Linked DNA regions of Homo sapiens. The protein of the gene in region 1 purifies or fractionates together with the protein of each later gene. This does not show direct contact. Each region holds a gene or a part of one and is shown in the gene's direction. Other genes may lie near its edges.

What was found.
Region 2: the proteins of SLC2A4 (region 1) and DNAJC12 purify together in Homo sapiens (affinity purification with mass spectrometry; 3 studies listed by BioGRID and IntAct, with this or other methods). This does not show direct contact.
Region 3: the proteins of SLC2A4 (region 1) and SMAP2 purify together in Homo sapiens (affinity purification with mass spectrometry; 3 studies listed by BioGRID and IntAct, with this or other methods). This does not show direct contact.

Annotation. Positions count from the first base shown.
Region 1 is NC_000017.11:7,277,239-7,285,184, forward strand, and holds the start of SLC2A4 (solute carrier family 2, facilitated glucose transporter member 4), read left to right. Parts: upstream 1-4,479; 5' UTR 4,480-4,696; coding exon 4,697-4,729; intron 4,730-6,006; coding exon 6,007-6,123; intron 6,124-6,234; coding exon 6,235-6,407; intron 6,408-6,499; coding exon 6,500-6,624; intron 6,625-6,735; coding exon 6,736-6,851; intron 6,852-6,978; coding exon 6,979-7,141; intron 7,142-7,246; coding exon 7,247-7,434; intron 7,435-7,596; coding exon 7,597-7,701; intron 7,702-7,849; coding exon 7,850-7,946. UniProt on the Homo sapiens protein: Insulin-regulated facilitative glucose transporter, which plays a key role in removal of glucose from circulation.
Region 2 is NC_000010.11:67,807,189-67,814,188, reverse strand, and holds part of DNAJC12 (dnaJ homolog subfamily C member 12), read left to right. Parts: intron 1-2,525; coding exon 2,526-2,665; coding exon of another isoform or gene 2,666-2,692; exon of another isoform or gene 2,693-2,981; intron 2,982-7,000. UniProt on the Homo sapiens protein: Probable co-chaperone that participates in the proper folding of biopterin-dependent aromatic amino acid hydroxylases, which include phenylalanine-4-hydroxylase (PAH), tyrosine 3-monooxygenase (TH) and peripheral and neuronal tryptophan hydroxylases (TPH1 and TPH2).
Region 3 is NC_000001.11:40,411,148-40,419,082, forward strand, and holds part of SMAP2 (stromal membrane-associated protein 2), read left to right. Parts: intron 1-1,868; coding exon 1,869-1,955; intron 1,956-3,011; coding exon 3,012-3,093; intron 3,094-4,124; coding exon 4,125-4,234; intron 4,235-5,028; coding exon 5,029-5,194; intron 5,195-5,632; coding exon 5,633-5,949; intron 5,950-7,935.

The DNA of each region.
Region 1 (7,946 bases):
AAAATCAACTTGTGCAAGAACAGACAAATACATCAATGGAACAGAATACAAATTCAGAGACAGACCCTTACATCATACATTAGAATTTGATATATGATAAAAGTGGTTCACTAAAGAGAAAAGTAAATTGGATCCCTAACACCTAAAACAAGGATGAATTCTAGAGGAATCAAGAAGACTTAAATGTGAAAAGTAAAACTATAAAGTTACTGGAAGAAAATGTAGAAGAATGCATTTATGGTGCAGAGTTGGGAAAGAATATATACAAATTATCAAAAATTGCAAACCATAAGGGGAAAAAATGGTCATTTTCATTACACTTAAATTAATAATTTCTATTCTGGCCAGGAGCGGTGGCTCACACATATAATCCTAGCACTTTGGGAGGCCGAGGTGGGTGGGTCACCTGAGGTCAGGAGCTCCAGGCCAGCCTCACCAACATGGTGAAACACCGTCTCTACTAAAAATACAAAAATTAGCTGCATGTGGTAGCTCACACCTGTAATCCCAGCTACTCAGGAGGCTAAGGCAAGAAAATCACTTGAACCCGGTGGGCAGAGGTTGCAGTGAGCCGAGATTGCACCACTGTACTCCAGCCTGGGTAACAGAGCCAGACTCCATATGAAAAAAGAAAAAAAATCTATTTCATGAAGTTCATGAAGGAAAAATTAATATAGAGATGATAGAATGGGAGAAGGTATCTGCAATGCCTAAATCTGACAAAGTAACTGATCTCTCTTTTTTTTTTTTTTTTTTTTGAGATGAAGTTTCACTCTTGTTGCCCAGGCTGGAGTGCAATAGCGCGATCTCAACTCACCACAACTTCTGCCTCCCTGGTTCAAGTGATTCTCTTGCCTCAGCCTCCTGAGTAGCTGGGATTACAGGCATGCACCGCCACACCCAGCTAATTTTGTATTTTTAGTAGAGACAGGGTTTCTCCATGTTGGTCAGGCTGGTCTCGAACTCCCGACCTCAGGTGTTTGGCCGGCCTTGGCCTCCCAAAGTGGTGGGATTACAGGCGTGAGCCACTGTGCCCAGCCTGATCTCATTGTGTTTGTTTGTTTGTCTGTTTGTTTGAGATGGACCCTCACTCTGTCACCTAGGCTGGAGTGCAGTGGCATGATATCGGCTCACCTCAACCTCCGCCACCCGGGTTTATGCCATTCTCCTGCCTCAGCCTCCCGAGTAGCTGGGACTACAGGCGCCCGCCACCACGTCTGGCTAATTTTTTGTATTTTTAGTAGAGACAGGGTTTCACCGTGTTAGCCAGGATGGTCTCGATCTCCTGACCTTGTGATCCGTCCGCGTCAGTCTCCCAAAGTGCTGGGATTACAGGCGTGAGCCACCACGCCTGGCCACGAGTGGATTTTAAAAACATCGTGATTACTGAAAATAAGATCAGAGTGAAATATATAACAAGATGCTATTTATGGAAATTTAAAATGTTTGGGCCGGGCGTGGTGACTCACACCTGTAATCCCAGCACTTTGGGAGGCTGAGGTGGGCAGATCACTTGAGGTCGGGTGTTGAAGACCAGCCTGGCCAACATGGTGAAACCGTCTCTACTTAAAATACAAAAATTAGCCAGGCACAGTGGCGCAAGCCTGTAATCCCAGCCACTCCGGAGGCTGAGACAGGAGAATCACTTGAACCTGGGAAGCGGAGGCTGCAATGAGTGGAGATCGCCCCACTGCACTCCAGCCTGGGTGACAGAGCGAGACACTGTCTCATAAAAAGAAAAAAAAAAAAAACTTTGCACACAAAATGATTTATATTTTGTAAGAGCACAAAGAAAAAAATGAACATTTAATGCACTGGAATAATTGAATGCATTGGAATAAGCATTTGGGTGTGGTGAATCGAACGTGTAGTCTTAGCTACTTGGGAGGCTGAGGTGAGAGGACCGCTTGAGCCCAGGAAGTCTAGGCTGCAGTGATCGGTGACTGTGCCTCTCACTCGAGCCTGAGCAACAGAGACCTCAACTCAAAACCAGTAAAATCGCCGGGCATGGTGGCTCACGCCAGTAATCCCAGCACTTTGGGAGGCCGAGGCAGGTGGATCACCTGAGGTCGGGAATTGGAGACAAACCTGACCAACATGGTGAAATCCCCCATCTCTACTAAAAATACAAAATTAGCTGGGCCCGGTGGCGCATGCCTATAATCTCAGCTACTCGGGAGGCTGAGGCGGGAGAATGGCTTGAACCCGGAAGATGGAGGTTGCAGTGAGCCAAGGTTGTGCCATTGCACTCCAGCCTGGGTAACAAGAGCGAAACTCTGTCTCAAAACAAACAAAAACAAAAATAAAAATGAGACATAGATCAGTGAAGACAGTGTGCTAATAACTGTCATTCGTTCAATCTTCTGTGCTGGAACTCAGGGATCAAGGTCCCCAGAAGCCGGAAACAAAGTGAACCTGTGGAGCAGGAACTGGGTGAGGAAGCTTTCTTTGAAGGATGAAGAGGAGTCCTTTGGAATTCCGGATTTTTTTTTTTCTTCTTGAGACGGAGTCACTCTGTCGCCAGGCTGGAGTGCAAGGGCACGATCTTGGCTCACTACAACCTCCACCTCCTGGGTTCAAGCCATTTTCCTGCCTCAGCCTCCCGAGTAGCTGGGATTACAGGTGTGCATAACCACGCCCGGCTAATTTTTGTATCTTTAGCAGACATGGGGTTTCTCTATGTTGGCCAGGCTGGTTTCAAACTCCTGACCTCAGTCGATCCACCTGCCTTGGCCTCCTAAAGTGCTGGGATTACAGGCATGAGCCACCAGGCCGGGCCGGCATTCCAGATTTTTCAGGGGATTAGTGCAGCAAAGGAATCAAGAAGGGATGTAAAGGCACAGTGTGTTCTGGGTACAATAAGGACTTAGGCATTGCCCAGAACAGGAGGCGAAGGAGATAGAAGGAGAGGCAGGAGAGATAGGTAAGGCCAGAGATCGGATAAGAGAGGCAGGAGGTTTTGTTCACTCTGAAAAGGGATTTGAACTTGGCAATTGGGGCAACAGAGACAGTGACTTCTTGCTTGAGAGATGAGATTGGACCTTCGAAAATTGTTCTCTGCCCTCGTCATAAAGGAAATAAGAGGAGCACGAAGACCAGTGAGGGTGATGGTGATCTGGACTGAAGTGGCAGCCGCCACGGAGAATATCGGATGAATGTGAGAGAGTTTTGGAGGTCAAAGCACCAATGTTGGAAACTAACTGGATAAACGAGGAGAGCGGCGCAGGACAGGAGGAATCGAGCCTGACTTCTACCATAGGGGTGACTGGGCGGGTAATTCATTGAAATAAGGAAGTTAGGAGGAGGAGCAGGTTTGGACATGCTGATCACTAGAGCTGCCACATCCGGGCGGTAACGAACACCTGGATCTGCAGCTCCAGAGAAGGGCCTGGGTCAGATGTCACTGAAGCCCTATGGTGGCGGAAAGGCGAGAAATAGTGGGTTGAGATTCCAAGTGCAATCCACTGCGGCTCCTCGCTCGCCCTCCAGGTGGCAGCACAACCCTGCGCTTCCGAAGCCCGTTTTCTGAGCCAGACACTCTCCACGCTCTGGGTATTTCGGCTTCTCTCTCCCCACACGCCGACCCTAGGTCGCGCACTTTCTGCCTGGCAGAATTTGGCCGAGGATCCAAACCCGGAGCAGCCTCCAGAGAGCGTGTCGTTCACGCGGCCAGCATATGCTCAGAGACCTCAGAGGCTCAGAGACCTCAGGGCTGGTGGTGTGGTCGGTTGTGACCACTTGTCCCTCGGACCGGCTCCAGGAACCAACCTGGGGAATGTGTGTAGGGGAAGGGCGGGATAGACAGTGCCCGGAGCAGGGAGGCGCTGAAAGACAGGACCAAGCAGCCCGGCCACCAGACCCGTTGTGGGAACGGAATTTCCTGGCCCCCAGGGCCACACTCGCGTGGGAAGCATGTCGCGGACTCTTTAAGGCGTCATCTCCCTGTCTCTCCGCCCCCGCCTGGGACAGGCCGGGACGCCCGGGACCTGACATTTGGAGGCTCCCAACGTGGGAGCTAAAAATAGCAGCCCCGGGTTACTTTGGGGCATTGCTCCTCTCCCAACCCGCGCGCCGGCTCGCGAGCCGTCTCAGGCCGCTGGAGTTTCCCCGGGGCAAGTACACCTGGCCCGTCCTCTCCTCTCAGACCCCACTGTCCAGACCCGCAGAGTTTAAGATGCTTCTGCAGCCCGGGATCCTAGCTGGTGGGCGGAGTCCTAACACGTGGGTGGGCGGGGCCTTTTGTTCCAGGGACTCTTTTCTCAAAACTTCCCAGTCGGAGGCTGGCGGGAACCCGAGAGGCGTGTCTCGCCAGCCACGCGGAGGGGCGTGGCCTCATTGGCCCGCCCCACCAACTCCAGCCAAACTCTAAACCCCAGGCGGAGGGGGCGTGGCCTTCTGGGGTGTGCGGGCTCCTGGCCAATGGGTGCTGTGAAGGGCGTGGCCCGCGGGGGCAGGAGCGAGGTGGCGGGGGCTTCTCGCGTCTTTTCCCCCAGCCCCGCTCCACCAGATCCGCGGGAGCCCCACTGCTCTCCGGGTCCTTGGCTTGTGGCTGTGGGTCCCATCGGGCCCGCCCTCGCACGTCACTCCGGGACCCCCGCGGCCTCCGCAGGTTCTGCGCTCCAGGCCGGAGTCAGAGACTCCAGGATCGGTTCTTTCATCTTCGCCGCCCCTGCGCGTCCAGCTCTTCTAAGACGAGATGCCGTCGGGCTTCCAACAGATAGGCTCCGAAGTAGGATTCATCATGAGGGGGCGGGGCGGGGGGGCACGGGTCCCGCTTTTCTTGGGCTGGGGTCGCGGTTGGGGTCAGCTGGGGGTGGTTCCTGCGCAGGCGCAGGGGGTGAAGGTAGGGGGCTGGCTATTTATACCCGGCCTGGACAACCCGTGACTGTGAGATTCCAATCCTACCAAAAGGCAGAGTGGGTCTGGAGGGCCTTTCGGGGCACAGGCAGCAAGTGGATTCTGCGAGCCAGGGTTCACCCCCTTGCCTAGTAGGCGGCGCGGCGCTCCGGAATCGGGGACACCCTGCCCTCGATCCGACTCGGGAAAGCAGATCCAGGCGGGTCTTGCCCTCCGGGAGCTGTCCGTCCGTCTTCGCTCACGGGCAGTGTTTCGAGGACCGGAGGCTCTCCGTGGGCCCCCACCCCCACTCCTGGCCGCCCTCCAGGACGCTGAACTTTCCCTTGGCCCCATGGTTGGTGGAGGGGCAGAGGGGACTGTCAGCCCCCCCTCCTCCAGCTCAGGTTTCCGCTTGGAGACAGTCTGTGCCGCCAGCGAGCGGCCACCACTGCCACCGCCCCTCACACTACCTTCCTGCCCTCCTCCCCTGGGCATGGCTCTCCCAGGCAGAACCCCTGGACGGCCCTCCCTGCACGGAGGTTAGAGGGGGAGGGCAGGCCACGACGTAGATAGAGAAGGCCACCCCTAGATGACCGGGATGTCCTTTCTGGAACAGCACTTCTTGGTCCTGTTGGGGGCCTCCTGGAGCTGGCTGACAGAACCCCCAGAGGGGAGGGAAGAGGACAGTGGCTGATGATAATAATGCACGTGTTAATTTATGAAACCAGCACTGTCAAGGATATTGTTAACATGTGATGTTGATTTTCACAACACTCTCACAGATAGGTAGGCAAGGCAGGCAACATCACCCCCATCTCACAGAGGACACTCAGGTTCGGGGCAGGGAAGTGACTTGGCCAAGGTCACACAAATCTGAGCTCTTAAGGCCAAGCCTGTCTCAAGGTCACAGAAGAATTTTGAGACAAGTTCTCAAACATTTCTCTGCCTTATGGACCCAAACATCCAGTTTCTCCTTTATGCCCAGGTTGCAGTTCAGCTCCTGTTTACATTGAGATCTTTGTGCAATTCCTAATATGGCCCAGTTTCCCTCACCCAACATGTTGGGTGGAGCCCAGTATCTTCAGGCTCCAGCTGGGCCCGGGCCCCTAGCGGAAGGAAAAAAATCATGGTTCCATGTGACATGCTGTGTCTTTGTGTCTGCCTGTTCAGGATGGGGAACCCCCTCAGCAGCGAGTGACTGGGACCCTGGTCCTTGCTGTGTTCTCTGCGGTGCTTGGCTCCCTGCAGTTTGGGTACAACATTGGGGTCATCAATGCCCCTCAGAAGGTGAGGGCCTGCAGCTGGCAGGGTGGGGGTACCCAAACGAGGAGGACAGGTGTCTCGGGGGTGGTGGAAAGGGGACGGTCTGCAGGAAATCTGTCCTCTGCTGTCCCCCAGGTGATTGAACAGAGCTACAATGAGACGTGGCTGGGGAGGCAGGGGCCTGAGGGACCCAGCTCCATCCCTCCAGGCACCCTCACCACCCTCTGGGCCCTCTCCGTGGCCATCTTTTCCGTGGGCGGCATGATTTCCTCCTTCCTCATTGGTATCATCTCTCAGTGGCTTGGAAGGTTCGCAGCTGGAGGGCAGGGGTGGGGGAAACAGGAAGGGAGCCACTGCTGGGTGCCCTCACCCTCACAGCCTCACTCTGTCTGCCTGCCAGGAAAAGGGCCATGCTGGTCAACAATGTCCTGGCGGTGCTGGGGGGCAGCCTCATGGGCCTGGCCAATGCTGCTGCCTCCTATGAAATGCTCATCCTTGGACGATTCCTCATTGGCGCCTACTCAGGTACTCACGGGCACCACAGCCCTGCCTAGCGCCCTGTTCTCTTTCACCATGCCTGGGCTTTCAGATGGGAATGGACACCTGCCCTCAGCCCTCTCTTCTTCCCTCGCCCAGGGCTGACATCAGGGCTGGTGCCCATGTACGTGGGGGAGATTGCTCCCACTCACCTGCGGGGCGCCCTGGGGACGCTCAACCAACTGGCCATTGTTATCGGCATTCTGATCGCCCAGGTGACCGGAGCAAGCCTCATGGGTGCCTGGGCAGTGGTTAGAGTGGGGCTCTGGAGAATATGGTGGGCTTCCAAGGTAAGGCAGAAGGGCTGAGTGACCTGCCTTCTTTCCCAACCTTCTCCCACAGGTGCTGGGCTTGGAGTCCCTCCTGGGCACTGCCAGCCTGTGGCCACTGCTCCTGGGCCTCACAGTGCTACCTGCCCTCCTGCAGCTGGTCCTGCTGCCCTTCTGTCCCGAGAGCCCCCGCTACCTCTACATCATCCAGAATCTCGAGGGGCCTGCCAGAAAGAGTAAGCTCTCCCGCTGCAGCCTGGCCCAGGCCCATGCCTCCGCCTCATCTTGCTAGCACCTGGCTTCCTCTCAGGTCCCCTCAGGCCTGACCTTCCCTTCTCCAGGTCTGAAGCGCCTGACAGGCTGGGCCGATGTTTCTGGAGTGCTGGCTGAGCTGAAGGATGAGAAGCGGAAGCTGGAGCGTGAGCGGCCACTGTCCCTGCTCCAGCTCCTGGGCAGCCGTACCCACCGGCAGCCCCTGATCATTGCGGTCGTGCTGCAGCTGAGCCAGCAGCTCTCTGGCATCAATGCTGTATGTGTGGAGCAGCCTCCAGGCAGGGCACAGCCCCGGGAGGGTAGACGAGAGTGGGGAGCAAACCCCCTCCACCAACACCCAGGGTAGGGCCAGCCTGTTGTGGCTGGAGTAGAGGAAGGGGCATTCCTGCCATCACTTCTTCTTCTCCCCCACCTCTAGGTTTTCTATTATTCGACCAGCATCTTCGAGACAGCAGGGGTAGGCCAGCCTGCCTATGCCACCATAGGAGCTGGTGTGGTCAACACAGTCTTCACCTTGGTCTCGGTAACTGCTCACCTCTGGAATGGCCCGAGCCACTGGCTTCACCTCCCTGGGTGTCCCGGAGGTCCTGCTCTTGGTTGCCCTCACCCACGCGGCCCCTCCTACTTCCCGTGCCCAAAAGGCTGGGGTCAAGCTCCGACTCTCCCCGCAGGTGTTGTTGGTGGAGCGGGCGGGGCGCCGGACGCTCCATCTCCTGGGCCTGGCGGGCATGTGTGGCTGTGCCATCCTGATGACTGTGGCTCTGCTCC
Region 2 (7,000 bases), on another chromosome or scaffold:
TTCTCAATTCTATTCCATTTATAAGTATGTCTATCCTTATGTTAGTACCACACTGTTTTCACTACTGTAGCTTTGTAGTATAAGTTTTGAAATTCAGAAGTGTGAATTCTCCAACTTTGCTCTTATTTTTTTCAAGAGTTTTTTTTTTTTTTGGCAATTCTGGGTCCCTTGTATTTGCAAACAGATTTTAGGACTAGATTGTCAATTTCTGCAAAAAAGGCAACTGGGATTTTGATAGAGATTATGTTGAATCTGCAGATCAGTTTGGGGGGTATTATCATTTTAGCAATAGTAAATCTTTATGAACGTGGGATGTCTTTTCATTTATTTAGATCTTCTTTAGCTTCTTTTGACAATATTGTGTAGTTCCTTCTTTTGTTCAATTTTTTAAAAATATTATATTCTTCTTGAAGCTTTTTTTTTTTTCTTTTGAGACAGAGTCTTGCTCTGTCACCCAGGCAGGAGTGTAATGACATGGTCTCAGCTCACTGCAACCTCCGCCTCCCAGGTTCAAGTGATTCTCCTGCCTCAGCCTACTGAGTAGCTGGGATTACAGGCGCCTGCCACCACACCCAACTAATTTTTTTTTTTTTTTGTATTTTTAGTAGAGACGGGGTTTCACCATGTTGGCCAGACTGGTCTCGAACTCCTGACCTCGTGATCCGCCCACTTCGGACTCCCAAAGTGCTGGGATTACAGGCATGAGCCACTGGGTCCGGCTCTTGATGCTCTTATAAATGGAATTTTCTTAATTTCATTTTCAGATTGTTCATTGCTACTGTGTAGAGACACCACTGATATTTGTATATTGATTTTTTATTTTTTGGAGACGGAGTCTCGCTCTGTCATCTAGGCTGGAGTGCAGTGGTGTGATCTTGGCTCACTGCAACCTCTACCTCCCAGATTCATGAGATTCTTCTGCCTCAGCCTCCCAAATAGCTGGGATTACAGGCGCCCACCGCCATGCCTAGCTAATTGTCTTCTTGCTGTGTTTTCACATGGGGGAAACAGAGTGAGCGAGTTGTCTGGGTTTCTTTTATTAGGGCACTGATTCCATTCGTGAGGGTTCCACCCTCATGATCTAATCATATCTCAAAAGCCCCATCTCCTAATACTATCATTTTGGGAGTTAAGAATTCAACATATGAATTTTTGTTTGTTTGTTTTGAGATGGAGTCTTGCTCTGTCGGACAGGCTGGAGTGCAGTGGTGCAAACTCGGCTCACTGTAAGCTCTGCCTCACGGGTTCCAACGATTCTCCTGCCTCAGGCTCCTGAGTAGCTGGGATTACAGGCCTGGGCCACCGTGCCTGGCTACTTTTTTTTGTTTTTTTTTTTTGAGATGGAGTCTCGCTCTGTCGCCCAGGCTGGAGTCCAGTGGCACAATCTCGGCTCACTGCAACCTCTGCCTCCCAGGTTCAAGCAATTCTCTGCCTCAGCCCCCGAGTAGCTGGGAATACAGGCGCCTGCCACCACCCCCAGCTATTTTTTTTTTTTTTTTTGTATTTTTAGCAGAGATGGGGTTTCACCATCTTGGCCAGGCTGGGTCTTGAATTCCTGACCTCGTGATCCACCCACCTTGTCCTCCCGAAGTGCCGGGATTACAGGCCTGAGCCACTGCACCCGGCCTGTATATAAATCTTGTATTCTGCTCTGCAGAAAGTTTTTACTTCACTGAGGAGCAGAAGAGACTTTGGAGGTGTTTCTAACAGAGCCATAAAAGGTTTCTATTATATACCATCTGGTCAAGTAGATTAGTGACAAGCTACCATTTGTCCCAGCATCTACCATGTTATTTATTATACTTAAAGCCTCCCGTTTCTCTTACGACAAAAAGCAGGCCAGCATCCTTAACATGACATCTCAGGCCCTGGTTGATTGAGCTATTGTCTGTCTACTCTACAGCCCCATCCCTCATCGTTCTTTCCCTAGCCTTGTGTCCTCCAGCCACACTGGCAATTACTACTTCCTCTAAGTCACCGTGCTCCTTCCTGCTTTATAAGGACAAACAAGATCATGGATGTAAAGTGCTTGGGACAGTTTATCCACTCCCTGTATTGTGCCTCAGTCATGTCTTTATAGTCTTTATAGTCTTCAGTTTTATAGTCTTTATAGTCTTCAGTTTTACTGTCCCTCTTGCCTAATTACTGCCCTGTTTCACACCCAGCACTAAAAAAGGTAGTTTTCTTCCTATAAGGTGGAATAGTATTTTTTCAATGTTTACAAATGTTTCTTTCCCCTGCTAATAATGTCTATTATTCACATCTGTGTCATCAGCACCGGGAGTAGCCTCTGGCACATGACTGAGGCACAATACAGGGAGTGGATAAACTGTGCCGAGCACTTTACATCCATGATCTTGCTTGTCCTTATGATACCCTTTACAAAAGCTTAATGAGGTAAATTGGCCCAAGGTCACATAGCTATTAAGTGGCAGTCATGGTTTTAGTAAGAGCAGTTGGATAGTTTTGGAGTTTAAAATATCCTCTCCGAGAGAGAAGTGCTCATTTCTTGATTTGTTTTCCAGTGGAGACTTTTCAGAAACTGCAGAAGGCAAAGGAGATTCTGACCAATGAAGAGAGTCGAGCCCGCTATGACCACTGGCGAAGGAGCCAGATGTCGATGCCATTCCAGCAGTGGGAAGCTTTGAATGACTCAGTGAAGACGGTGGGTTTCTCGCTGGGTGCGACGTGAATTTGTGAAGCTCAGGATGCCCATGGATTAGACTCATGTAGTAGCTTAAAGAGTCATTAGGCGATAGGAGGGAGAAAACCAAGAAGTTAGCAGAGTCTGGATATAATTCAGTGTCCGTAAATCCCATGAAGAGAAGCTCATCAGAATAAAGGCAATGAATTTGTGCCAGAAGAGCCTGTGACTACATTTCTTTCAATCTCTTTGGCTGTTTGTTTCAGTATACACACTCCCTGTTATTGCTTACTATTTTATGAGCTCTAATAAATGTACTTCTCAAGTTGCTCATGAATTGCTGAGTTTTAACCATTGTAAATTCACATTCTCCATCTTTTTAGTTTATGTCAGCTTGCTCTCTTTTCAAGGCTTAGAATTTTCATTAAAAAGGCAGGATCTGATTAGTCAGAGAAAGCCATGAATTATTCCTATTAAACATTCTGGTGAAAGAATTGTTAGACTTTAAAAACATTGTGTTATCTTTCTTCATGTCATTAAAAGGCATAAATATCAAAATATTCACTATAATTACTGTCATATATTTATTTTGTTCAACATTGACCTTTATATATTATAGACAAAATGTAATTTTAAAGATTTAGGCATGATTTATTACCTAGATTCTCTCCATTGGAACACTTTTCTATGACATGGGACTTATAATACAGAAATTACCTCATAGGTAAGTTTTCAGGGACAGTTGTTAGAATTAGTGTATAAAATGATTCACATCTCTTAAATTATAGCCCTTCAGGGTTACATTTAGATTTCCTTCTTCATAGTTTTTATTTTAGAAGACTTGAGCAAATTGTTGATAAAAGACCTCGGCCTCCCAAAGTGCTGGGATTGCAGGCATGAGCCATCGCACCTGGCTAGATTGTTAAATCTCATAAATTCCCTTTCCTTCACACCATCAACCCTGTGTTTCTGCTTTTTGTTTAAATAGTATAATCCCTCTGGAACGGAAAAGCATTGTTTGGGAACATTATTAGTCCCTATACCCACAAGGCAGGACAAATCACGGTGTACTTTTGTAGCATCACACACAGGATCATATCTTGGGAATTTCCTTTGGGAGAATTCCTCAAACGAGCCACAGCCTCAGGGGTGCCACATTTTTTTAAATTAAAAACTTCAAAAAATTTTCAATAGCTTTTGGGGTACAAGTGTTGATATGGTTTGGATTTGTGTCCTGCCCAAATCTCATGTTGAATTGGATGAGGGTCCTGATGGGAGGTGATTGGATCATGGGGGCAGATTTCCCCCTTGCTTTTCTCATGATAGTGAGTTCTCATGAGATCTGATGGTTTAAAAGTATGTGGCAGTTCTACCTTCTCTCTCTTTCCTGCCACCATGAGAAGAAGGCCCTTTCTTCCCCTTCACCTTCCGCCATGATTGTAAGTTTCCTGAGGCCTCCCAGTCATGCTTTCTGTTAAGCCTGAGGAACTGTGAGTCAATTAAACCTCTTTTCGTCATAAATTACTGAGTCTCAGGTAGTTCTTTACAGCAGTGTGAAATGGACTAATACAAGTGGTTTTTAGACACATGGATGAATTGTATGGTGGTGAAGTCTGAAATTTTAGCGCACCCATCACCTGAGTAGTATACATTGTACCCATTATGTAGTTTTTTATCCTTCACTCTCCGTCCCAGCCTCCCACTTTGAGTCTCCAAAGTCCATTATATTATACCACTCTGTATGCTTTTGTGTATCCGTAGCTTAGCTCCCATTTATAATGGAGAACATACAATATTTGGTTTTCCATTCCTAAGTTACTTCACTTAGAACAATGGCCTCCAGGTCCATCTAAGTTGCTGCAAAAGATATTATTTTGCTCTTTTTTAGGGCTGAGTAATATTCCATGGTGTATATATCCACCACATTTCTATCATCCAGGAGTGATGCAACTGAACTGGTATTTTTTCCCTACACTAAGTCTGTCACTTTACTACCTACTTATTTATTTCTTTTTGTTTTCTAGAAGTTCCTCCTGCTAGTTTAATTGGTAAAAATATTTTAAGACCTCACCCAGGTCAATGAATATGTTGGCGATTTAAATTTAGACATGTAGTATTGGTTTGAAAAAAAAGGTTTGGAGTGAGGATTCAGTAATTCAGGCCTTTGGGATCCTGGGATAACCTGAAGAGTTATCCCAGGATTCCAGAGAATCTTAGGGAAATGTATCTTTGTCATGCTAAATGGTTTTACCCAAAGAGACCCAGGGTGTGGATGGCTCTCCCTCTAGCACCAAAATATATGGCAGCATGGATTTAGGATGCCTATGGGAAAAAGAAGCCACAGCAAAGGCACAGTCAAAATGAATGGCTAAAAAAAATTCTCATAAGCCGTTAAAACTATCTTATGCCACTTCAATTGCTGTAAATTTTATAAAGAGTTAATAGAAACACATTTTTGGTGAATTGATCATTTGACAAATTGATTGCCTCTGGGAGGGCTTGTTGGGTCAGCCTCGTGTGGACCTATTTGTCTGCTGATTGTTTCTGGGTTCCCAGCTGGGCAAGGTGTCTTTGGGGTGGGTTCAACTGGCCATAGACTACCTATCCAGAAAGCTTCCTACACTATGCCCACATGGCCACAGTTTCACCAGCCAGATGGGAAACAGTATGCAATTCAACACCTTCTGCTGGTTCAAAAGGCAATCTGTCTTAATTGGATGTTATCCAAAAGCAGGTCAGAAATCACCCTGATAAGTGAAAAATCCACTCATGGTGATCACTGATCCAGGATAATAATAACCAGTCAATTTTGTATAGCTATTCAGCTGATCTATGGCTCATCTGAGTCCATGGATTTAAAAAAATGTTGTGCCAATGTTTACTGGCATGTAAACAAAATTTTTTATTTCCCTGTGTGTTTGTGTGTGTGTGTGTGTGTTTTAATGGAATGCTTCGCGAACGTGCCTGTTGTCTTTGCACAGGGACCATGATCATTTTCTTTGTATCATTCCAATTTTGGTATATGTGCTGCTGAGACGAGCACTATTTCCTAGTATTGACCAAGGTCTAGAATGTAAGAAAATGACTTCCTAGAGAAAAAAAACCAACTCGTTCAAGAAAGCTAGTAAACAAGTTAATTGTGAAGGCAGAATAACAACATAGAAATTTCACAGACTGTTAAGATTAGTGGCCTTTGCACCTAGGCTTGCTGTCTGTTTAGCGTTAGTTCCTTCCATGCATATATAGATTTTCTGTCTTGTGCATTTTATTATCTTGCTGTAGACTCTCCCCTTTCTAGTCTCTCTCTTAGTCTGTATCAATTGCTGTCATTTGATATCTTTTATTGATGCTGATTCTACTGAAATGAGTAGCTGCATAATAGACTAGTTCGCTTGATGTTAAATGTTGTTCTGTGCAACTAATACCCTTGTGGAGTTGAGAAATATGCTTGTGAACACAGAAATGAGTGATTTGCAGACTATCTAACTGTGTCCCAGCAAACCAGGCTGCTTAGCATCACTCTGATGTTAGTCCTTTGATTGAACTACAAAGCGTGAGAAGCACTTGTATCTAAGGTTAGATACAGTTTGGATATTTCTTCTGTATATTTCTTTAATGAGGATCAGCAGATATGGGAGTCTGATAACATATTTTATTCTGATTTACTCACAAAGGAGATGGATAAGACTACTATTTCAGAACATCTTTTCACTGAGGACCTTTAAAGCATTTACTGTGGATTAGACATTAATCCTAACCTATCTAAGACAGACCACAGGTACTTTGATTTCAAGAGAGAAGTACTGAGGCACAGAGATCAATACATCACGTACAGGCCACTTTGCTGGCTTGTGAAGCTCACAGTTTACATTTTCAGCTCTCTGGGCCCTGAATTCTTGAATGTCTTATTCCTTGTTTTTCACTAACCTTCCTAATATCCTTTTCCCTCTGCAGAGGAAGTCACTGGCAGCCTCTTTTATTTTGTGCATATGCAAAAACCAAACCAAAACAACAAACCTAAACCAACCAAACAAAAGTCATTTTTTTTTTTAATACCAGCTGAGGCATTGCCTCTTTTAAAAATTAACGTTTTTATTTTGAAATAAAATCTACAGAGAAATGGGTAATACTTGCATTTACAATTTAGCAAATGGTTTTGAAGTGTTTACTCTGTAACTATTCCCTTCCCACACATATTGTTGGCACCAGGAATCTCCCACCTTGTATGTTTTTGCATCGAAACTTCGCCTAATTTTTAAAATTGAATATTTTCTTTTTTTTTTTGAGACAGAATCTCGCTCTGTCACCCAGGCTGGAGTGCAGTGGTGCGATACCAGCTCACTGCAACCTCTGCCT
Region 3 (7,935 bases), on another chromosome or scaffold:
GTTAGGTAAAAATGATTCCTTCTCAACTGTGTATGAAGGACTCTTACCTTGCAGTTATCCAGAAAAGGGACTTGTCAATATCATATCTGTGCCAAGAAAGAACCCAGTGTGCAGCTACAGCTTGCATGGCATCATCAAAAACAGTTTAGAACCCAAGCATACACATTTCGTTTTATTTGTAGAAAACTGTGGTCTGTCTGCCCAGCTCTGTTCATTGTGCCTAAAGATATGAACTCAGATGAGGTCAGAAAAGGGTATCTGAGATAATTCAGATGACGAAGGAGTAGAGTTGCTATTTGTACACAGCTATTGTGGAAACAGCAGCTCTGCCCTCAGGGTATTCATGATTTCATTGCTGGTATACTGTACCCATGAAAGCAAGCCCGGTTACCGGATGTTTCTCTTAGGAAGGAAATAACCTCCCATTTACCAAAAAGCTATTTCAGAATTTGTTATTTAATGTACTTAGATTTTTTTCATATTTTGTGAAGATTTTTATGCCAATAATTAGTATTTGCTAAGTGAAGACGTTTAATATCAAATGAAAAGAAACTGGCTTTGTTAAAAACTATTCTTTTTATAATGGACAGATAAAACATTTTTAACTTAAATGAAATGTCGTGTTAAAGACATACACTTTGTATGAGAAAAACAGCTGCATGTATTGATTATAAAATTATTTTAGAGAAAATGAAAATTAAAGTGAAATATCCATACATACTCTCACTATCTTTGCTAATAATTATCTTCTTGGTGTGTTCCCCTTTTTTTCTAAATAGTTTCTTTTTGGAGGCATAATTATAATACAGTTATGTAGACTTCTCGTGCCTTCATTCCACTTAACATATATTTCTGTGTTGCTTATATAGTGTTTATAATTTTTAATTGTTGCATCATCTTTCAGTGAGTAGCTAAATCACTGAAAGTAATAATTTATTTACCATTTCCCTTCTGTGGCATAAATGTTATTTAATTTTTTTTAGCATAAATAATTCTGGGGTGAACTTGGTGCATTTAACCTTTTTCATATTTTGGACTATTTTCGTAAGATACATTACAAGATATGGTATCATCTAGGTCAAAGGATTTCAACATTTGTCTCTTCCTAGTTTTGCCAATATACTTTCCAGAATTTGTACCATTTTACTCTCTCTTCTCAGCATTGTATAAGAGTACTGGTTTCACTTCATCCCTCCCACCATTATAGAAAGATCTTTCTCCCTGCATAAAGTGCATTTTAAATTGCATTTTTTATCACTGGCAAGACCAAACATGTTTTTCATATGTATGCTATACTCTGTATTCTTAAGGTTACTTTGTGGTTTTGTTTTACATTTAGATGTTTATTTGATTTTAAAACTTAATTTTTGTTCTTCTAATCTGTAAACTTGAAATTAAGGTTTATTTTCTGACTGTTAAAAAAATGAATATTGAGAGGACCTATGATTGAATTTATGATATCACAAAGGACATAAGCTGAGTAAGATGAACTTATTCACTAGTATACTGATATGAGGGGAGACCTCTCAAAGCATGGGCAAATTAAATTTGGGGCACAGGTGGGCAGCATACTGGTAAAATGTTTTAGCGTCTGTACATAGCCTCGACTGCAAATGTCAACAGTCATGAGTGGGTTAGGAGGGCGGGCGCCTAAGGTGTTTGGAAGACGCCTCGTACAGCATTGAGGCCAATGTGGAAGAGGTCAACTCTCATGCTCCACACCAAGACACCGCCCCCCAAGCTTGTCAGACACTTACGTCAGAATCAATAGGGATTGGAGGTGTCCTTTTCGGACACTTGGAATTATGATTTATCCAACTATTAGTCACCTTGGGCCCTGTGTTCTTTGTCTTGTTAAATCATTATAGAAAGAAAAAGATGACAAGTGGAAAAGAGGGAGCGAACCAGTTCCAGAAAAAAAATTGGAACCTGTTGTTTTTGAGAAGGTGAAAATGGTAAGTTGGGAAGTATTTGCACTGTATGGACAGCCTCAGGTATGTGTATATTTGTGAAAGGGAAAGTAGGAGGTCTCGTGGTGAGTACCATTGCACCATCACAGCTGGGGCTAAAGGGTTCTGCATCTGGATTGGACTGCCTGCTATCATTTCTGCTCTCTCGTTACCAGTTGCTGCCTAAATCTGCTCTGTAAGGGCTTCGCTTTGGGGCCAGATGAGAACTCAGGAAATGCATCTGTTCCATCTAAGCAAGAGGCACATTCCAAGCCAGAATGCCAAGGCTGAGGGACACCATCTGAGCAGATGCTATTTCCACATTAGTCCTTCTCTTGTTAGACCTTCTGTATCCCATTTTCTGATTTCAATGAAGAACAGTCCAGAAGTGAGGCCATATTAGTCCATTTTAAGTGATCCCTTCTTATGTTCTTGCTTTGTCATGTTGAAACAGACACCCTTCTTTTTCCACAGGACATATTGTGGCTGTAGTAGTAGAATCTCTAACATAAAAACTTGGAATCTTGGGAGAGAGGACTTTACTTACTATTGCTTAAGGAAGAGTCTTTTATCATCGTTCTGAATCACATTGTCTGTGGACACAATCACTAGTGATACTGGCAGAGTGAATTAGGTAATCTTTAAACCAACCTCCCTTTTGGTGTTAAAGTAAAAGGTTTTCTAACCACTGGGAGATTTGTTGGCTCTTGGCTCTTGTACCATCAGATACCTACCTTTATTCTTGGCTTTTCCTGGGACCAAAAACTGCTGCTTCTGTTGGATCCCCTGTTCTGTGGTTGTCTTGGTTTCAGAAAGATCTGTCTCTTTAGGACACCAGACAATCACAGGCGATATCTTTGTTTTTCATTTTAGGTTTGGTTTATGCACTTCTGCCTCCTGACTTGATTCTTTCACCTAATACTTCCTGAGTTTTGTTTCTTTGGTAACTCTCTTTGAATAACAGCAGCCCTACCCACAAGAACACCGTGGCTTTACAGTGGAGATGGGAAAAGAGTTCAAAACCACCTGCTTATTTCTTGCTATAACATATTTTCACCTTAGCCACAGAAAAAAGAAGACCCACAGCTACCTCGGAAAAGCTCCCCGAAATCCACAGCGCCTGTCATGGATTTGTTGGGCCTTGGTAAGAGTTGGACTTTTCAGCTTCCATGTTCTTACAAATTTTGATAAATTCTCAGTGACCCTGGAAGATAGGTAGAGATGGGGTTCTCCAGTTTTGTCTTCATTGCCAAGACTGTTCTCTCACATTCTTCCTGATCTGTTTTACATCTGAGCAGTTGCTCTAAGGAAGTGTTTACTGTGACACTTTTCAGAGCGACAGTGTGGTGTAGTGGTTAAGAGCATGGCCTTTGGAGCCAGTGTCGCTCTGTGTTACTTACTGTCTGTGTGACCATGGGTAGTTTACTTAACCTCTGAATGTTGCTTTCATAATCCGTGCAGTGAGAATGAGTCTCTACTTCAAAGGTGTTGTTGGAAGGATTAAATGAGATAATGCCTCTAAAGCTCTTAGCCCCATGCCTGGCACATACTGAGCCCTCCATAAATGTTAGCAGTTTTGCTAAACAGCACCTTTGAGCCTCATGTCAATTCCCTGTACTCCACTCCCTGCCCCCATTCCTTTCATTTTTCAGATGCAACCTGTTTCTGAGATGGCCTGTGGTCATTTTTCTCCAAACCTTTGAAATCCTGAACTAGTGATTCTGCCCTTTCAGAAAGAAAGCCTGTTGTCTGCCTTTCACAGCACTGATGGTTGCACTTTGTTTCCATCCGCTTCTGCTGATTGAGGTTATTGGCTACTTAGGCTTCTAATTTCTGTACCTTTCCTTGCTCTCTGAAAATGAACCCTCCTCCATACCTTGCCCTTCAAATAGCCAGAAGGGAGCCAGCCAGCCCCCCACTGTGGTGCTGAAATACCCTTCAGGCCTGGGCGTCTGCTGCCCTGTGCCTGATAGCTGGGCTACAGGCTTCCCCAGAGCACTCTGGGAATGTGGGGTGAAGCCTCTTTTGAGAAGCCCCGTCCATGCTAGATGGTTCCAGAAGTCTAGATTTCTAGGTCCATGAGCTTATGGGCCACCTTTGCTTTTTGTCTAGAATAGAAGGAAGGCATGGGCTTAATAAGCAGTGCTGCATCTTAACTTCGATCTCTCTTTCTAGATGCTCCTGTGGCCTGCTCCATTGCAAATAGTAAGACCAGCAATACCCTAGAGAAGGATTTAGATCTGTTGGCCTCTGTTCCATCCCCTTCTTCTTCCGGTTCCAGAAAGGTGAGTCTTGTGGGCTCCTCAGGATTAAAGAACATTCTGAAATGGGTGATTTTGATATCTTAATCATGGAACCACGTCATGCTTCCTTGGTGGAGTTGGACTTTGGTTTTCTTGATTCTTCATTCTTCCCTTAACATTGTGTCATTTCTGTCACAGTCTAAGATTGCTGTTCATGCCTTTTTTTCTCCTGCTCAAAAAGGGTGGGCCATTTGAGTTGCTTCTCTGGAAAGTGTGTGATACTGTGAAGGCTGATACTTGAGGCTAGCTCCTCGGCCTGAGTTACTGCCAGAAAATTGTAGGTAGGAAAGACTTGAAACCTTTAATGGCTACCATTCGTGAAACGCCTGCTATGTCTCAGGCACAGTGTGAGGTGGTTTTTGTATATCATTTTGTATATTTCATTAATAATTTCACTCCTTCACCACAAACCTGCAAAGTGGAAATTTTACAGATGTGGAGACATTAGTTTGTAAAAGTTATGTGACTAGCCTGTGGTTATACTAGTAAATGGCTACACTGGGGTCTAAACTCAGTTCCCTCTGCTGCATCATTTGTGGGTTGTTTTGTTTGTTTGTTCCTACCAAATCACATGTTTTGGTGAAAGGAAAGAATTGTAACAGAGCTTAATTATCAGGTGTGTTCAGATAGTTGAATGGTAAAAATGTTAGGAAGCTATTAACTTGAGCCATGAATTCTTATTGCAGATGTTAGGAGCAGCAGAGAGGGAAGGGAGACCCTTAAAGAGACCCCCATGAGAACCATTTCAATTCTCCCCCCGCCCTCTTTGCCCTAAGGTTGTAGGTTCCATGCCAACTGCAGGGAGTGCCGGCTCTGTTCCTGAAAATCTGAACCTGTTTCCGGAGCCAGGGAGCAAATCAGAAGAAATAGGCAAGAAACAGCTCTCTAAAGACTCCATTCTTTCACTGTATGGATCCCAGACGCCTCAAATGCCTACTCAAGGTAGATTTCATGGGTGTCATGGCCATGTGCCAGGTAGAGACATGAGGGCTTCCATGCAGGAATTATTTATTGTGACAGAGGACAGTTGCTTTGGGGGCCAGGATGTCATACACCAAACAAACCTGAACATGACCAACGTATCAGCAGATGGAAATTAATGTAACTCAGAGTCATACTTCTGTGGAGTCTGGGGTCACAATTCGGTGAAGTCTAGCTCAAGGTCTGGATCTGGACCCTAAAGGGAAAATGGCTCGGTCAGCAGCCCATTGGTAAGCTATAGCAGGCCTCGTAGGGACTCTAACTACTTTGCTGTGTAAAGAGCATTGTGAGTAGAGTAATCCTGAGAAATTCCAGCTGGAAAGGGTTAGCCAGGGAGAGTTCGGGCTGACTTTATGTTTTTCCCTCTTTAACCAACCTGTATGTGTGTTTTCTTGGCAGCAATGTTCATGGCTCCCGCTCAGATGGCATATCCCACAGCCTACCCCAGCTTCCCCGGGGTTACACCTCCTAACAGCATAATGGGGAGCATGATGCCTCCACCAGTAGGCATGGTTGCTCAGCCAGGAGCTTCTGGGATGGTTGCCCCCATGGCCATGCCTGCAGGCTATATGGGTGGCATGCAGGCATCAATGATGGGTGTGCCGAATGGAATGATGACCACCCAGCAGGCTGGCTACATGGCAGGCATGGCAGCTATGCCCCAGACTGTGTATGGGGTCCAGCCAGCTCAGCAGCTGCAATGGAACCTTACTCAGGTAAGCTACCCCATTTTACTTGCAGCAAGAGTTTTGAGCCTTCCTCAAGTTTTTCTCGGTTTGTACCTCTCCACTATCCTTTGAATCCTTTCCATGTAGATGAGATAATGTAAGAGACATTGTTAGGTTTGCTTTTTTTTTTTTTTTTTTTCCTAGAAGGTCTGTCTAAAGTCAGACTTTCTGAGGAGTTCTGGGCTCCTGTAGAATAAGCCCAACTGCCTAAATCTGAATCTCTCCACACATTCTCAAAAGCAAAAACAAACACACAAAGAAACCCTGTACAAACAATGAATGCAGATATTCTCACAACAATCTCATTTGGTAGACAGAATACTGCAAGGTTCAAATGGCATGGCAATGGGCATATAAACACCAAATCCAGCGGAGCCAGCATCACAGAGGAGACTGTAAAAAGAGAAGATGGAGCAGGGGCCTAGCAATAATACCACAGATAAAGTAACCCCCCAGAAGGAGAAGGACCTACCCTCATCAAAGACATACTGAGAACAGGTCTGAGATGTGGTAGATTAGAACTCTGTTTACTTGGAGGATCAAAAATAAGAGACTTCAGATATATAGGAGTATAGGTAGTAACCTTGGGAAAGCATTGCTTCTCGGGGAGATGGGCATGGCCTAAAAGGAGGAGGTACCCTTTAGAGGACTGGTGGTGAAGGAAAGAAAGACACGAGAAATGGGAATGAGAATCACAAAATCAAATATACACCTTCTTCCCTCTTCCAAAATAACCACTTCACTAATAAAAGATGGTGCTCTTAATCTAAGAAATTTAGTAAGCCTCCCCAAACCTTCACACCTATTATTGCTGATTGAGAAAAAATAAGACCTTACAAAAATGAACCAAACATGGAAGCTGACATTTGTACACAACTACTACAGGAAGAAAATAGAAAATGAAAATCAAAACATTTCACGTAATGAATATTCTCCCTCAAAAAACAGTCATGAAGCAGAAGAAAATTGTTACACAATCTACCAATCTGAATTAAATGTCCTTAAACATTTGCAGATAAGACAAAACACCTTAAATCAGAAATTCAAAAACTTAAAGCCAAAATGGATAAAAAACTGCATGCTGTGAAATGAAAGTTTACTAAACTCAGAAAAGAAATTGAAGAAAAAGCCAAAATTTTCGTATAAAGACTCAATTACAAGTTAGCTAAAGAACAATAGATTGAGCTGAAAATATATTCGGCATTGAGGAAAGGCATGAAACAGCTAAGAGAATGAAAACTAAATATAGAAAGTAGTAAAAAGAATTAGATGGAAATTAATATGGAAGTTAGGCAAAGAAAACTTACATATATTTGGAGATGCCCAAAGAAATAAAGACAAAATAAATAAAATATGGGACAGTATTAATGTGTTTAACACCAGAAAACATTCTAGAAATAAAAGACTTGGATATAATATGGAAAGAGCCCACTGTGTGTCTGGGAAAATTGACCCAGAACAGTCAACTTTAAAACATATCCCAGCAAATCTACAGACTTTAAAGAACATTCAAAATGTTTAGGGGTCCAACCTTTTCCATACCTCCTACCCACAAAAATCTGTTACTTAGAACAAACAAAAAATACCCAGGTTGACATCAGACTTCCTAGCAGCAAAATACAAAAAGAATAACAAGGAGAGTAGTATTTTAAAGACACTCAAGTGTATGCAAGACACAACAAGTATTTTACAACCAAGCCAGCCAAGCTATCCTTCAGGTATCAAGGCTGTAAAAAATAAATATGCAAGAACTCAGAGAATATCACACTTACAAGACTTTCCTGGGGAATCTAACAGAAGATAAGCTTCATCCACCTAAGAGATGACTGGGGTCATTTTCATTTTTGGCAAAAGAACTGATGGTGAGAATTGAATGTTTAATTGAGAATCTAAGACTAAAACAAAGGTGGTGACAAGCGTTGCAGAATATACATTATATTCTGACAAACAAATACAACTGAAAATGAAGGAGGA